Regions from separate parts of the Homo sapiens genome. Here region 2 is linked to region 1. Evidence: fine-mapped expression QTL. A gene starts in region 1. The other region holds a variant in brackets. All regions are shown on one strand. Distances are between the middles of the regions. Region 1 holds the start of CLEC10A (C-type lectin domain containing 10A). Region 2 holds the start of ASGR2 (asialoglycoprotein receptor 2).

Evidence for each region.
Region 2: its variant is fine-mapped to the expression of CLEC10A in whole blood (TOPMed, PIP 0.93).

What each region holds. Positions count from the first base shown.
Region 1 is chr17:7,077,046-7,082,416 of GRCh38, reverse strand. It overlaps CLEC10A (C-type lectin domain containing 10A), which reads left to right and starts at 2,166. Exons shown (of 9, transcript NM_001330070.2): 1 at 2,166-2,365; 2 at 3,532-3,671; 3 at 4,304-4,420. The coding sequence starts at 3,605.
Region 2 is chr17:7,112,269-7,117,639 of GRCh38, reverse strand. ASGR2 (asialoglycoprotein receptor 2) reads left to right here and starts at 2,818. Exons shown (of 9, transcript NM_001201352.2): 1 at 2,818-3,025; 2 at 3,330-3,523. The coding sequence starts at 3,400. RefSeq lists enhancers at 1,880-2,666, 4,472-4,972. The variant C/A (reference allele first, on the strand shown) is at 2,954.

The DNA.
Region 1 (5,371 bases):
CAGGGACATAGATGAAGCTGGAAACCATCATTCTCAGCAAAGTAACACAGGAACAGAACACCAAACACCGCATGTTCTCACTCATAACCGGGAGCTGAACAATGAGAACACATGGATACAGGGAGGGGAACATCACACACCAGGGTCTGTCAGGGGGTGGGCGGCAAGGGGAGGGAGAGCATTAGGACAAATACCTAATGTATGCGGGCCTTAAAACCTAGGTGATGGGTTGATAGGTGCAGCAAACCACCATGGCACACGTATACCTACGTAACAAACCTGCACATTCTGCACATGTATCCCAGAACTAAAAAAAAAAAAAGAAGCTTCAAACCCACTGAACCAGACTGAAAAAAAAAAGTTAGTGAATGGAGAAATATCATGTTCTTTTCATGGAAGATTCAACAATGTCAAAATGTTGATTATCTCCAAATTAATATGTGAATACACTGCAAGACTGTGGTAGACACACAGAGAGCTACCCAGGTCCCCCTTCTAGGAAGGATGTGGTGACCCACTGTGGGGAGTGTAACCTGCAGACAGCTGCTTCCTGAGGTCACACCCATGTCAGGGCTGACTGCCAGTGACCGAAGGAGCTGGTGCTCTACAGGACCCTGTGGCAGTCCAATGCTGGACAGCTCCCGGGGGTGGCATTGTTTGAACCCAGAGCTCCCTGTTGGTTTGGTTGAAGCTCTCCAAAGTGCTGGGCTTCTCCCTCTGCCCAGCACCATTTCATCCACTTTCCTTTTCGAAGTGCTAATCCCTAATAAATAGCTTGTACCCCAAATTCAGCCTCAACCTTGGCTTCCAAAAACCGAACCTGCGACATATACTAATCAAAATACCGAATACCAAATAAAAACAAAACTGGCAACGACCTGGCCGGGTGCGGTGGCTCGCGCCTGTAATCCCTGCACTTTGGGAGGCTGAGGCGGGCAGATCATGTGAGGTCAGGAGGTCAAGACCAGCCTGGCCAATATGGTGAAACCCCTCTCTACTAAAAATACAAGAATTAGCTGGGTGTGGTGGCGGGACCTGTAATCTCGGCTACTCGGGAGGCTGAGGCAGGAGAATCGCTTAAACCCAGGAGATGCAGTAGCCGAGATTGTGTCACTGCACTCCAGCCTGGGCAACAGAGTGAGACTCTGTCTCAAAAAAATAAATAAATAAATAAAATAAAAAAGAAAAGAAAAAGAAACAACTTAAATTTCTGATTTATTTCTGTCAATAGAGAAATGCTAAATAAATAAATTACGGTGCCTATGATGAAATGAGGTGCAGGTAGATCAAGTACATTTTATAAACTGATGTGGAGAAATGTTCCTGATAGCTTGTTAACTCCAAAAAAAAAAAAAAAAAGCACATAGCAGAACACAACCCCATGTACATACAAAATATAACCTAAAATGTATTTCTTCTCCTTCTCCACCTTGTAAGATACTCAGTTTCCTTCCTACTGAAAGGGATGTGCGCGTGGATTCAGGGCAGCTCCCTTAGGGGTTGAGCAGGGATCATGGGATGAAATGGAATCCTGTTCATGAAGACAGCGCCTGTGCTGAGAGCCAGAGCAGGGTGCCAAACTGTCTCCTTACAAGCTGTGAGTGATCTTGGGCTCTGAGCCTTTAGTCCGTCATCCAAAATGCCTCCCCAGGTGCTTGGGGGGAATGGTTGTGGAAGGTAAATGTCTGGCATAATCCTATCACAGATTACTCAATAAAATTTGCTCTTTTCCTTGGCTTCTCCCGTCCTATTAGGGCCAAGAAGTTCTATTCTCTGGCACCCCCTTCCCTCCTTCCGAGTGGAGTGAGGCGAGCGAGGCCACAGCTGAGCAGCCGAATGACTGGGACCCAGAGGATGCTGATGCCAGGGACTCAGGCCAGGATTGAGCAAGAGAACAGACTGGGCTTCTCTAGGATCAGAGGTGCGATGATGGAGACCCAACAATTCTGGGAAATGTAGAGGCAGGAAGTGAAAGGAAGTGTAGGGTAGAGGAGCAACAGCAGATTGTACCTCTGATCCAGCCCTGCTCCCAGATGGTAAAAATGAGGAAGCTCCGAGAAGAGGAAAGGAAGTAGGCATGGCCTGGAGGAGGAGAACAGAGCTGGCCTCAAACCCAACTCTCCCCACCCACACATGGTCTCTGTGTGTTCTAATCCCTGTTCATTCTCATTTACTGTCTAAAGTTGAGGAGATGGGATGTCCCAGATGATAGGGCTCCTGGGATTTCAGACCCAAGACCAGCAGGACTCCAGTCACCTCTACCCCAGCTCTCCAGGACACAGCGCTCCCAACTCTGAGTGACGTCCCACCTCTGGTCCTTGCAGCACAACCAACGTGGGAATCACACCCTCCAGACCTCCCACAGGTAATGGTGCTGCCGGTGCCGGTGAGACCCAGGGGACAGGGGATGTCAGAGGAAGCAGGGAGAGGGGGACTTTGGGTCTTGGGTGGGACTAAATGAAAATAAATATAAGGCGGCAGTGTGGGGTTTAATTACTACGTGGAGATTTGAGACTCTGTTCCCTTCACTGGATTCTAGATTGGGTTACGGCAGCCACAATCCCCTGTCATAAACTAAGACTCCGGGAGCTGAGGCAGGAGAATCTTGTGAACCCAGGAGGCAGAGGTTGCAGTGAGCCGAGACGGCCTCGTTGCACAACAGCCTGGGCGACAAGAACGAAATTCCATCTCAAAAAATAAATAAATAAAAATAAAAATAAACTAAGACTCAGACTCAGCCTCATTGGTGGCCCATTTCCAGCCTTATCTTCATCTCAGCCCAGCCATGCCCTAATCCCAATACTAACCCCAGCTTCTACATTTTCTTTTTTTTTGAGACTGAGTCTCACTGTGTCGTCCAGGCTGGAGTGCAACGGCACAACCTCGGCTCACTGCCACCTCTGCCTCCTGGGTTCAAGTGATTCTCCTGCCTCAGCCTCCCAAGTAGCTGGGATTACAGGCGCACACCACCACACCCAGCTAATTTTTGTATTTTTAGTAGAGATGGGGTTTCACCATGTTGGCCAGGCCGGTCTCAAACTCCTGACCTAAAGTGATCTGTCTGCTTCGGTCTCCCAAAGTGCTGGGATTTATAGGCGTGAGCCACCGCACCTGTCGCCCCCCACCCAGCTCCTACTTCAACCCCAACCCCAGAATCAACTTGAATTTTAACACCAGCCCAAAGCCAAAATTGAACCTCGACTCTATTCTGTTTCCAAATTCACCACCAAAGTTAACCCCAATTCCATCCATGGCTCCAACGTGCATACTGACCCCAATCCTAGCATGAGATACAACCTCCAGTCCTGCCTGATTAACTGGCCCACTGGGTAGTCCTAGCAATGCGTTTAGCTCCAACGTTACCCTCCAGTTTCACTCCCAAACTCAACTCGACCCCAATTCTAACTCGACTGCAAACCCAGGCTCATTTCCGTCTTAACCCTGGGCTCATTCTCAACCTGAGCCTCATCTCCCAACTCAACGTCAGCCCTGCCCTTGGCTCCAACTTAGTCCCAACCTCCTATTCCCCAGCTCCACCCCAGACTGGGCGCCGGCCCTGCCTCCATTTCAGCTGTGACAACCTCAGAGCCGTGTTGGCCCAAGCATGACAAGGACGTATGAAAACTTCCAGTACTTGGAGAATAAGGTGAAAGTCCAGGGGTTTAAAAATGGTAAGAGGAAAGGGGAAACTCTCCTAAAATGCCCTCTTTATATGTTTAGAAGGATTTCTCCTATCATTTCTGTACCTCCACCACGCGCACTGGTGGGTCCTAACTCTGAGGAGGTCAGGCCCCAGCCTCTGACGGGCCTAGTGTGAAGAGGATGCAAGGTCTCTAGAAAGACTGGGACAGGGAGGATCACAGTGGACCCAGCTTCTGATGCTCTGTGGGGTGGGGATGAGAGCTGCGCATTGGTGGAGGGAAAGATAAGTAGTTGGGTTTGGAAGGAAACTCATTTGTGAACCTGATTGTCCAGCAGGTAGGTGAGCATAAGCCCATGAAGGGCTGGCTGCCCCCAGCTCTCCCTGTGTCCTCCTGCCCCTGCCCCCAGCTCTGACCATGGGACCCCTCATATCGCTATCACGTGGGTCCCCAGGGGTGTGAGGGGCCTGTGTGACTGAGGACTTGTGCTGGTCCCTGAAGTCAAAGGCCTGGGCATCCCCCACCCCAAAATCCTCCTTGTCCAACCCTCCCCTGGAGTCCCCTGTGCCCAGCCCTCCTCACTAGACAGCTCCCTGGGCCCTCTCCTTCTCCCGTCTCCGGTGTCTGGACCCTCCTCATCCTGACACTCTCTCCTCTTGCAGGGCCACTTCCTCTCCAGTCCCTCCTGCAGCGTCTCTGCTCTGGGCCCTGCCATCTCCTGCTGTCCCTGGGCCTCGGCCTCCTGCTGCTGGTCATCATCTGTGTGGTTGGATTCCAAAGTGAGGGTCACAGGGGTGGACAGGGAAGAGAGAAATAATGGGGTAGAAGATAAATAATGGGGTGCTACAGTAGGGCAGTGGTGGGGCGATGGTGAGGTCCACAGTAGGAGCAATGCAGGGCACAGTGTTGGGGGCAGCTGTGGAGATAACAATGGGGCATGGTGAGGGCAGTGCTACCAACAGTCATGGGGGTCACAACAGAGCCACTGAAGCACTGATGGGGCACTGATGGAGTGATTGATGGGAATGGAGGAGAGGGCACTGATGGAGTGATTGATGGTAACGGTAGGGGGGCACTGATGGAGTGATTGATGGGGACGGTGGTGGGGGCACAGACGGAGTGATTTATGGGAATGGTGGGGGGCATTGATGGAGTGATTGATGGGAATGGTTGGGGGTCACTGATGGAGTCATTGATGGGAATGGTGGGGGGGCACTGATGGAGTGATTGATAGGAACGGTGGGGGGTCACTGATGGGGTGATTGATGGGAATGGTGGTGGGGGTCACTGATGGAGTGATTGTTGGGAATGGTGGGGGGCACTGATGCAGTGATCGATGGGAATGGTGATGGGAGCACTGATGGGGTGACTGATGGGAATAGTGGGGGGCACTGATGGAGTGATTGATGAGAACAGTGGTCGGAGCACTGATGGAGTGATTGATGGGAATGGTGATGGGGGCACTGATGGAGTGATTGATGGGAATGGTGGGGGGGCACTGATGGAGTGATTGATGGGGACGGTGGTGGGGGTAGTGATGGAGAGAGTTGACGGACCCATAGTCAGGATGGCTGCTGGCTTTGTCACTGAGTAGTTGGGTTATGTACTCAAATTACTTCACCTCTCTGAGGCTTAGTTTCCTCATCGGCAATATTGAACAATAATAGTGCCTGCCCCACTGGGTTGCCGTGAGGACCCAATAAGGCAATGCTTATGGAGGGCCCTGCTCG
Region 2 (5,371 bases), 35 kb before region 1:
CTTATCCCCCAGGACTCTCTCTGGCAGGATAGTTGGACTTCCTCATAGCATGGTGACTGACTTCCAAGATTGAAAACTGAAGCTACCAGGTTTCTTGAGGTCCAGGCCCAGAACTGGCAGAGTGTCATTTCTAGTGCTTTCTGTTGGTCAAGGCAAGTCACAGGGCCAGCCCAGACTCAAGGGGAGGGGAAACAGACTCTACCCCTGGCTGAGTGGTGTGACTTGCACATGTGGTGAGGGGAGAAATTGATGGGCACCATCTGTGGGGACTGTCAGGGCACTCAGACTTCTGGCTGCCTATAGAGAGTAGAGAGTATAGAATTAGTGAGGGGAAACAGGATGGGAGCTAGGGAAGAACGAAACAGGACAAAGGTTTAGCTCAGACCTCTGAGGAAGACCTAGTGTCATGAAGTAAGGAATATGACCAATCTAACCTTTGTGTCTGAGGTACAAATAAACCCCAAATCAAAATCAACCAAATAAGGCCGGGCGCGATGGCTCACGCCTATAATCCCAGCACTTTGGGAGTTTGAGATGGGCGGATCACCTGAGGTCAGGAGTTCAAGACCAGCCTGGCCAACATGGTGAAAATACAAATAATTAGCCGGGCGTGGTGGTGCATGCCTGTAATCCCAGCTACTCAGGAGGCTGAGGCAGGAGAATCACTTGAACCCGGGAGGTGGAGGTTGCAGTGAGCTGAGATCGCGCCATTGCATTCCAGCCTGGGTGACAAGAGTGAAACTCTGTCTCAAAAAAAAAAAAAAAAAAAATCAATCAAAGAAAATAGGATTCCATAACCCAAAACAGAAAACCTCCAACAATATGGAAACTTCAGAAATAGTCCAAGTACATGTTAACTTCTAAGTTAAAATGATTTTCAAATAGGGAGAAAGAGAAGGACGCAGATGAGTCTGGCTTTCTCTGTCCCTTCTCTCCCTGTAGTGCCGTGAGTGGGGGTGTAAGTGACAAGCCCTGAAACGTGGAATTGGTTCAGTCAAAGGGGTGGCCAATGAGGATGGCCCCATCCCTGGTTGGCAGTTGGCAAAGCTTGACATGCAGTAGACAATCCATCTGTGAAGCTCTTACCTGTATCTCAGGACTAAATCCACATGCCCCTTAAGATGGGGGCTTCACAGCAGTGTTGTTCAGACTTTGAGTTGTGACCCATTAATGGACTGGGAAACTCAACAGAAGGCACGTAGTAAGGTGAGCATTGTCCCATCAAACTTTAGTGTCAACCGTGTATTTCCAAACGCATTATTCTATTCACTCACTCACTCAGTAGATACTTGTTGAGCAGCTACTGTGTGGCAGGCACTGGGGATCCAGGAGAAAGTAACACATACAAATGCACCTGTGTGTGCGGGTGCTTGTGTGTATGTTCTGGATCACAGCATGAAATTCGTCTCTCGCTGTGGGCTGCAGTCAGAGAGCCCAGCGGCTGCTGCTGCCTGGTGGCTGGGTGGGAATGTCAGGGTACTGGGGGGGTGGCTACTTCCCATGTGGGTCAGCAAGTTACAAGAACAGAAAAGGCCTCTGTTTGAATTCCTTTTCGGCACCCGGGGAAACGAGCAGCTTTATAAGAAACCCTGCCCGTAGCCATCCGCCCAAGTTTGGTGAGGGTCAGAAAATCATGCACAAAAACTGTGTTTTCTTTCCCGAGCTATTGTTAGCGCAAGTGTAGACAGTCAGCCACGTTCCTTGCTTCATGGAAGCCAGTCTTCCTCGTAGGACCATGAAGACCTTTTCTTTTCTTTTTCTTTCTTTCTTTTTTTTTTCTTTGAGATGGAGTTTCTCTCTTGTTGCCCAGGCTGGAGTGCAATGGCGCAATCTTGGCTAATGCAACCTCCGCCTCCCAGGTTCAATCGATTCTCCTGCCTCAGCGTCCTGAGTAGCTGGGATTACAGGCCCCTGCCACCACGCCCGGCTAATTTTTGTATTTTAGTAGAGACAGAGTTTCACCATGTTGGCCAGGCTGGTCTCGAACTCCTGACCTCAGGTGATCCACCCACGTCGGCTTCCCAAAATGCTGGGATTACAGGCGTGAGCCACCGTGCCCGGCCAGACCTTTTGTTATGATGTTATTTTCCCCTCTTTACTCCATTTTGCTTTGCCAGTTTCTCTACTCACCTGGGCCACCACCTAGAGCAAGTTGCCTCATCTCTCCGAGGCTCCGCTTCCGAACCCTGTGAAATGGGAGTAACAGAAGTCCTGCCTCGTGGGGGTGTTGTGCTGTGATAAATGAAGAAACACCTTGGAGAATTTAGGGCAGTGGCTGGGCCTGAGGACAGTGTTTGTGTTGCCTGGGCTGGGGCAGGGTCTGGGCCGGACGGGGCTCTCTGAGGTTGGATTCCTCCTGCGAGGAGAGCTGTTTTTCTGCAAAGCCCCTTCCTCCTCCTGCTGAAGCTTCTGGATTTGAGAGGCTTTACTCTCCAGGAGAGTGAAGCGAGTTGGGCCAGAGCTGAGAGTCTGGTGGCCGAGCCCACAGGAAGCTGGGGTCTGTGGTTCAGATGCCGGATTGGGCAAGAGTAGAGAACTGGTCGCTGTGATCCTGGTCAGGGATATTTGGAGACACCCACAGTTCTGGTAAATTCGGAGGCAGGAAGTGAGAGGGGGAGGGAGAGAGGGAAACGGCAAACTGCACCCCAGCCCCTCCTGGCCTGGCACCCCTTCCAAATGGTGCAATGAGTGGGGTGAGTGGCGTGTGGAGTTGAGCGCAGCCCAGGGGACCCCCCTCTCTGGGAATAAGAACAGAGATAGCCCCGTCCCCTGCCCCCACCCCACAAATGAGTTACAGCTCTGTTTCCTCTTCTGTTTACTGTCCAAAGTCCCAGGCCAGGAGGTGCCAGGTTAGAGCTTGGACACTCAGACCCTCCAGTGCAGGCCTTGCCCGGACCAGCCCCTCCTCCACTCTCCTCTCCCCTGTGAGCTCCACCTGCCCCAGTTCTCCTGG[C/A]TTTAACCCCTCCTTGGCCAAGGCCAGGGTTGCCTGCGGGAGCCAGGTGTCCGCTCTCCACACCTTTCACAGGTAACTGAGGCTGGGGAGGCAACTGGGACGAGGATGCTTGGGAACAAGGAGGCCTTGGTTCAGGGATGGGGAGGACCCCATGGGAAGCTGTGGGTGGTCGGGTCCATGAGCGTGGGGAGGGGTCTCCTGGCCAGGTCAAGGCCCAAGCGGTCTCCTGAGAAGGGAAAGGACCCAGCGGGATTTCAAACCTCATCCCAAACGCCCTGCCAACCTCAGATCCTACCCAGGCCACCACCCCGAACCCCTCCGACCCTGCGTTCCATCCCACCATCAACCTCCACGTGAATCTGCACCTCTGCCCCAGCCCCAGCCCTCAGAGCAACCTCAGCCCAGCCCAGCCCAGCTCCAGCTCCAGCTCCAGCCCGGGCCCCATCATGGCCAAGGACTTTCAAGATATCCAGCAGCTGAGCTCGGAGGAAAATGACCATCCTTTCCATCAAGGTGAGGGGCCAGGCACTCGCAGGCTGAATCCCAGGAGAGGAAATCCATTTTTGAAAGGCAAGTGTGCAGTTTCTGCGGCTTTGCTCCCCCTCTGTCTCAGCTCATGATTGCTCTGTCCCTTTGAGGTCTCTGCCGCACCCACTCTGTGAACAGGGACTGAGGAGGGCCCGACACCCCCGCTTGTTCCCTCACCTCACCTTCCTGTCTACCCCAGGACCCCAGGAAAGGCATGTGCCAGAGGTGTGGGGAGATCTGGAAGATAACTGCCTGCCCTTCTCCTCCCAACCCAAGAACACATGTGCCTCGTATGTGCGTGTGCACGTATGTGCATATGAGGAATGCAGATTCAGCTGGGACTCTGTGTGTGTGTGTGAGTGAATGTTGTGTGTGTGTATATGTGCGCGAGAGCGTGCATATGTTGTGTGTGTGTATGTCGTGTATGTGAGAGGGTATGTTGTGTGTGAGAGTGTGTTGTGTGTGTATGTTGTGTGAGTATATGTTGTGTGTATCTTGTGTGTGAGTGTATGTTGTGTGTTGTGTGTGTATCTTGTGCATGTGTGTATGTTGTGCGAGTGTATGTTGTGTATGTGAGTGTGTGTATGTTGTGTGTATGTTGTGTGTATGTATGTTGTGTATGAGTGTGTGTATGTTGTGTGTGTGTACGTTGTGTATGTTGTGTGTGTGTTGTGTGTGTGTATTGTGTGAGTGTATGTATGTTTGTGTGTTGTGTGAGTGTTGTGTATGTTGTGCGTGTGTGTATGTTGTGCGAGTGTGTGTGTTGTGTGTGTATGTTGTGAGTGTGTTATGTATGTTGTGTGTGTGAGTGTGTTGCGTGAGTGTGTGTGTTAGTGTGTGTATGTGATTGTATGTGTGTGTGTGTGTGTGTGTAGAGGTGGGGTGAGTTGGGATGGGTGGGGGACGTGAGCACAGAGAGATCCTGGAAGATCCCTGCTCCTCTCATCTCCCAAGACCCTTCCCTGGATCCTTCTGTAATAAATCTTGACTGAAGGACCTAAGTATCTTGGACATTTTTTTTTTAGAGACAGGAGTGTAGTGGCAGGATCATAGCTCACTGCAACCTCGAACTCCTGGGCTCAAGCCATCCTCCCACCTCAGCCTCCCAAGTAGTTAGGACTTACAGGTGTGCACCACTGTGCCTGGCAAATTAAAAAAAATTTTTTAGAGAAATGGGGTCTTGCTATGTTGCCCAGGCTGGTGGGAAAAGATTTTAAGGTGAGAGAGATCTGAGCAGTGCTAGGCAGAAGGGCAAGAGCCAGGAATGGAGGAGTGTCAGGTGTGTGGGTGCTGGTGGTGGAGCCGGGTTCCATGGAGGCAGGAGGAGCAGGGGCTTGGAGCTTAGGAAGGGGATTGGTTAGCTGGGCTGGAATGAGGGACTCCTCATTCCTGAGGCTGGCCAACCGAGGGAGGGCCGGTGCTGGGCAGGGCAGGGCAGGGGACAGGAGGGATAGGAGGTCCCTCCCGAGGACCACTCAGGAACACCAGTAGCATCTCCTCTCTCTGTAGGGGGCTGGCTGGACTTCCCACCAGGCGGTGTCCCCACAGGCAGAGGCCCTGTCCGCCTCACTCTCCTCTGCAACTCCAGTGCCCACACGGCACCCGGTACATAGTGAACACTCAGAGAGAATACGGGATGCTGCTGAATCTTCTGAGGGTGACAGAATTTAGAGTTTGAGCAGGAGGCTTGGAGAGAGGCCAGGATTTCTGAAATTAATGGGAGAGTGAGCTCACGCGAATGGGCTGAGGGACACCAGTGAGGGACCGTCTGAAGGGATGTAGCAAAGTCACCGCATTTCCCTCCAGCAGCCCGGGTGGTGGGGGCTGGGGGAACGTCATCATGGGAGCTGACACTGATCAGCTGCTCACCGGGGCCCATCTTCCACTTGT